2 separate regions of the Homo sapiens genome follow, and region 1 is linked to region 2. The links come from fine-mapping of genetic effects on gene expression. Tissue or cell type: monocytes. Region 2 holds a variant in brackets; the other region holds the start of a gene. All regions are shown on one strand. Distances are between the middles of the regions.

Region 1 (2,763 bases), 250 kb after region 2:
CCTAGCCCGTGGAAACTGTGAGGGAAAAAAAAGTTTATTGTTTATTAACTGCTAAATTTGGGGTGATTTTTACCCAACAATAGATAACGAATACAAGGATATTGCTTATTATTCAAAATCACTATATAAAGCCCCTGAAAAATTGAAAGCTGCAACCAGGGAAACACTGAAAATCTCCAAGAACCCTGTGTTTCTTCTTAAAGACAGTGAGAAAAAGCACATACATCTGTTTTCCTTTTAGTTTTGGCCACCAGGAAGCTCAGAGCCAAATTTATGATGCAATTTTAATAACTATGTAAGCCCCTATGGCCTGCTTATCTGTGTTCTTATTCCTGGCCTTTCATTTTATTCTGACTTTTCTTTTTCTTCGTCCTGATTGTATTAGCTCATCTTTATTTTTCTATATTATATGAGTTATGGTAAGCAACTTCAAATTCAGCTTACGGAAAAGCAAGGCATTCGTAAATCTCTCTTTTTTTTTTTGAGACTCTTACTCTATCGCCCAGGCTGGAGTGCAGTGGCACGATCTTGGCTCACTGCAACCTCCACCTCCCGGGTTCCGGCAATTCTCATGCCTCAGTCTCCCGAGTAGCTGGGATTACAGGCGCCCACCACGACACCGGGCTAATTTGTTTTTGTTTGTTTTTTGTATTTTTAGTAGAGACGCGGTTACGCCATGTAGGCCAGGCTGGTCTCGAACTCCTGACCTCAAGTGATCCACCTGCCTCGGCCTCCCAAAGTGTTGGGATTACGGGTGTAAGCCACTGTACCCGGTCCATAAATCATTTTTTAAAAATAGTTTTTAAATTTAAAACATAGTTTTGCACATTAAAAAAAAAGTTTTGCACAGGTCTAACCGAAGGTGGTGGTGGGAAGATCAGGTCATAGGTGTGGGTCTCTGGAGCTCCAAGCATTGGCCAGGGTTGATTTGGATTGGGTCAGAAATATACAACGAAAAAGGGAAAAAGGATGGCAATTGATTGCCATCCCCAGAGGGAGGGGCCGAGGGTTCGCCCAGTCACCCACAGTGGCATCCTTGCAATGTGCTAGTTAGACCGCTCCTTTAAGTCCCTCCCGCACTGGCCCGCTCGGCCCCGCCCCTCTCTGGCTCCGCCCCTCCCCACCCCTGCCCCGCCCATCCCCACCCCTGCCCCACCCCTTTCTCCCCCGGGCTCCACCCCTCGCGCGCGACCGGCCGCGCGGCGCAGCGCCACGCCGCCTCAGTCTCCGCCCGCCGATCCGGCCTCTTCGGCCGTTGCGCACTCCACCCCCTCCCTCCGCGCCCGCGCGCGCCTTCCCCGCCCCGTCCGCCTCACTCCTTTTGGGGCGGTTGGGCCGCGCGCCTGTGGGGGCGGGGCCCGGAGCAGGCCACCGAGCCAATGGGGCGCGGCGGCGGCGGCGGCGGTGGTGGCGGCGGCGGCGGAGGCGGCGGTGGCGGCGGTGGCGGCTGGGTCGGGCCCCGACGGGCGGCGGCGGCTGAGGTGGAGGCGGAGGGAGGCGGCGGCGGCGGCGGCGGGAAGATGGCGGCTCCCGTCCTGCTAAGAGTGTCGGTGCCGCGGTGGGAGCGGGTGGCCCGGTATGCAGTGTGCGCTGCCGGAATCCTGCTCTCCATCTACGCCTACCACGTGGAGCGGGAGAAGGAGCGGGACCCCGAGCACCGGGCCCTCTGCGACCTGGGGCCCTGGGTGAAGTGCTCCGCCGCCCTTGCCTCCAGGTAGCCGGCTTGGGGGAGTGGGCCAGGAGCGGCCGAGCGGGGCGAGGGTGGAGTCTCGGGGTGGGGAGCGCGCGGCGGGAGCTCAGGCCTGGGGGCGGCGGGGACCGGGCCGCTGGGGAACTGACGGGGTCGGGTCGGGGCCAGGCGGGGGGCGGCGGCGGGGCGCTCCTGCCCGGGGGGCGGCCTGAGCCCAGGCCGCGGGGCGGAGGTGGCGGGGCCGCGAGGCAGCCGGGGAGGGATGAGGTGGCAGAGTGCAGCCGGGAGGCCGGGGCGGACGCGGAGCGGTCGGGCGGGCTGGGGCCCGGCTGTGCAGGAGCGCGAGGGGGCTGCGGAGGGTGGGTCCAGGCTGGCTTGACAGGTTTCCTGGTTCTCGGGAGGCGGGCCGGGGGTGTGGGACCTTGTCCACCGCACCCTTGAGACCAGCGGCAACCTCTTGTCCCCCCGATCGCTGCAGCCGAGGCTTTGGGGCCGGCGCGGAGACAGGGGGGTTGCCTTTCCCACTGTCTTCCTGGTGCTAGGACAGGTGTTTCCGTGGTCAGGCCTCTTTGTACTCCAGCGCTAGTGAGAATTTGCAGACTTAACTGGGACGGTGACATTTGCTGGCAAACACGAATTTGACCCTACTGTGGAAGAAGATACCCGCACTTAACATATCTGATTTCTTGGATTCCCTCTCGTATGTTTCAGTGTGCCAGGAGAAGGAAATGGTCTGAGTTTGGGTCTAGTTTAAGCTTCATTGGAGTAAAGGACAAGTATGTTATGTATATGGTGGTGTTTTAGGCATTGGAATGACTTTTAAACGTTGTTGCCTATTAGCATATTCGAGACCAGCATATTGGTCAGGCTGGTCTCGAACTCCTGACCTCAGGTAATCCACCCACCTCTGCCTTCCAAAGTGCTGGGAATCAAGCATGAGCCACCGCGCCTGGCCTGCTTAAGTGCTTAAAATTGACTTTTCTTGGCCGGGCACAGTGGCTCACGCCTGTAATCCCAGCACTTTGGGAGGCCGAGGCGGGTGGATCATGAGGTCAGGAGTTCAAGACCAGCCT
Region 2 (2,763 bases):
GTCTAGGAAAATGGTGATGTAATTAGTTAACAGAGGAAAAATAAAATAAATAGAATGGTTAGGTGTTTGGGAATAAACTTGAATTTTGTTCTGAGATAGCCCCGTGAAACTGGCCAGCAGGTGGCAGCATAAGGTCTGGGACCCCACAGACAGTTCACTAAAATTTGAGATTAGGAAGTCTTGGAGATTTTGAAGTTAAAGACAAAAGCAGAAATGCAATTGCCATGGGAGACTGAGAAAAGATGAGGAGTGATGACTGAGAATTCAAGGGCAGGAACCAGGAAAGGACACTGAGAATGCTGGGCTTGGGGGAAGGAGATGAACCGGGAGTCAAGGTTGTCTCAGTCTCCAGGAGAAAGACAGGTGCGTGAGGTTTCAGTGCTGCAGGGACTTGCAGCTGAGAGATAAGGGTGTGCCTGGGTAACCAAATTAGAGGGGTTGAGAGAGAACAGAATAGAAGTGGAGGAAGGGATGCTGTTTAAAGAAGTTTTGAGAGAAAGAAAGTAGATATGGTGGGAGAGCTTGAGAAAGAATTGGAGATTTCTTTAGGATAGGGCACGTTTAAGCATGTTTTCAAAAAAAAGAGAAGGGATAACTAGTGAAAGAGAATAAATGCAGAGTAGGATCTTGATGGAAACTTTAAGGAGAGGCATTAAAGACCAATGTTACCTTTAAATCATGTGATTTGGTTGGGGGATAAAAAGGTACACACAAACATATACTTAATCAGAGAGGAAAGTTCTATGATTAAATGCTAAATTTGGATATAGATAATTAGGGAAGTTCAGAAAATGTATGTAAGTTCACATTGTAAAATCCAAAGCTCTGTGGAGGAGATGAGTGTTTGATGACAAGAAGGATTTGGGAAAGACATCCAAGATGAGAAGAAATGGGGAGTCAGCAGGACAAAGGCATGGAGTAGGACGTGATGTGTAGGTGCGTGAACAGCAGTAAAAAGGTCCAGCTTCTTGGAGAGGAGGATACATGAATGGAAAATACAAAGTGGCAATTTATAGATGGGTTTGGAAGGAGAGTTAAGACACTTACATGCTTTCCACTGAGATATATTTTACACTATGCTTAACTTTGAGTTCTGAATGTTATTGTTTGATTCTCTTTAAATTCATTTCCTGTTATTTAGACTGTATTGGTGAAAATACCCCAGTTAATGAAATGGATGGAC[T/TCATACACA]CACACACACACACACACACACACACACACACACTGTTAACCAGTCACATAACTTTTTAATAGGCTGTTTTCAGAATAACCAGTTTCTCCAAACTCATATTTTCTTTCTTTTTTTTTTTTAACTCGTAAGTGGGAGTTGAACAATGAGAACATATGGACACAGGGAGGGGAACATCACAAGTGGGACCTGTCAGGGGGTTGAGGGCAAAAGGAGAGTGAAAATTAGGCCAAATACCTAATGCATGCGGGGCTTAAAACCTAGACGATGGGTTGATGGGCGCAGCAAACCACCATGGCACATGTGTACCTATGTAACAAACCTGCACGTTCTGCACATGCATCCCAGAGCTTAAAGTACAATAAAAAAAATCATATTTTCTAAGTTCAGCCGAGGTATGTAGCTGTTCCTTTAGCATCTGTAGATGGTATATGATTAGACTTTTATTTCAGGCACAAATACTGAACTGGTTTGTGGCCGAATCCAGATTCTGTGGCATCTCTGCCTCCAATTCCTTTGATTTAATTGGGTGTTGCTAAAATTATAACAATTTGTCCAATTAGAACTATTTCTAGTGCAGTGAAAATGGTGTTTACTCCAAGTGCTAGGGCAAATGCACCCCTAGGGAACTGGGTCAGTAAACAGATTTTCATGCAAATTCCATTGTGGGTGATACCAAAATAACTTGTCTCTGGGTGGAAAACAAATAACACTAATTTAATTTTTTTAAAAAGCAACATATGACAGTTTTCAGATGATGAGAGAAGATATTTGTCCCCCAAATTACCATTTTACCCAGTTTTCATTTCTGTTTTAGGGGAGAAGGGAAGATGATCTGGCATGTTAGTGGTCAAATGTACTTGAAAGGAAAAATTTACAGGATATTCACGAGTAGAGGTGTCCAGCGTTTGCAAAGTGCTTTAAAATGTGGCCGTAAAAAGTTTACATTTTAACTACCTGCAATGAGTCAAAAAGTTAAGACACTCTCTGAAAGTGAGATATCCATGACGCCCTTTTTGCTCATTCAGAACATCATTGGTAGGTTAGGTTATACGTGTTGAGTAACATTTTACATTAGGCAATGGTGATCTGCGAACGTAATTATTTGCTACCATTGGGGGCAAAATTGGCAATGTATTTACATGGATGAGAGAGTGCTTCCCAGCAGGGAGGGACTTCTGTCTTAGCAGTTTTCCAGAGATAGAACATCTTCAAGCAGTGAGGAGCATTTCTTCCTGAAATTTACTCAGTAGAAACAGTTTTCTTTGATAATTTTCCCCTCTAGAATCTCAGGAAAGCTTTCAAAAAGATGTGATATTACTGCTAACTTTTGATTTGCTGGCCAAATTCCAAGTGAGGTAATTCCTACCATCCACTTAGCTATTTATGTAGTTATTATTGCTTCTGAGAGCTGCTGAGTTCTGAAAGCTACTACTACTTAATCCTACTTAAAATTCCCTTTGTCTTTCTCTAGAAGAAAAAAGGACTCTTTTATACTTGTTATCAGTGGTGATGGGTGTTATTTTATAGACTTTTATCTGACCTCTCCCTCCCTCCCTCCCTCCCTTCCTCCCTCCCTCAT

Which allele goes with the higher level. Alleles are on the strand shown, and positions count from the first base shown. SD is a standard deviation of normalised expression in the study named.
In carriers of allele T in region 2, the expression in monocytes of the gene that starts at base 1,223 in region 1 tends to be higher than with TCATACACA alone (large effect, 0.93 SD a copy in Kim-Hellmuth 2017).

Evidence for each region. PIP is the estimated chance that this variant, and not a neighbour inherited with it, causes the effect.
Region 1: VKORC1L1 starts here. The variant in region 2 is fine-mapped to the expression of VKORC1L1 in monocytes (Kim-Hellmuth 2017, PIP 0.94).

What each region holds. Positions count from the first base shown.
Region 1 is chr7:65,871,852-65,874,614 of GRCh38, forward strand. VKORC1L1 (vitamin K epoxide reductase complex subunit 1L1) reads left to right here and starts at 1,223. Exons shown (of 3, transcript NM_173517.6): 1 at 1,223-1,714. The coding sequence starts at 1,521. RefSeq lists silencers at 915-974, 995-1,494, 1,208-1,387, 1,935-2,004 and enhancers at 1,070-1,621, 2,173-2,724.
Region 2 is chr7:65,621,659-65,624,421 of GRCh38, forward strand. No RefSeq gene overlaps it. Among named protein-coding and RNA genes, the nearest start is that of SNORA22, 130 kb to the right of the region's middle. The variant T/TCATACACA (reference allele first, on the strand shown) is at 1,184.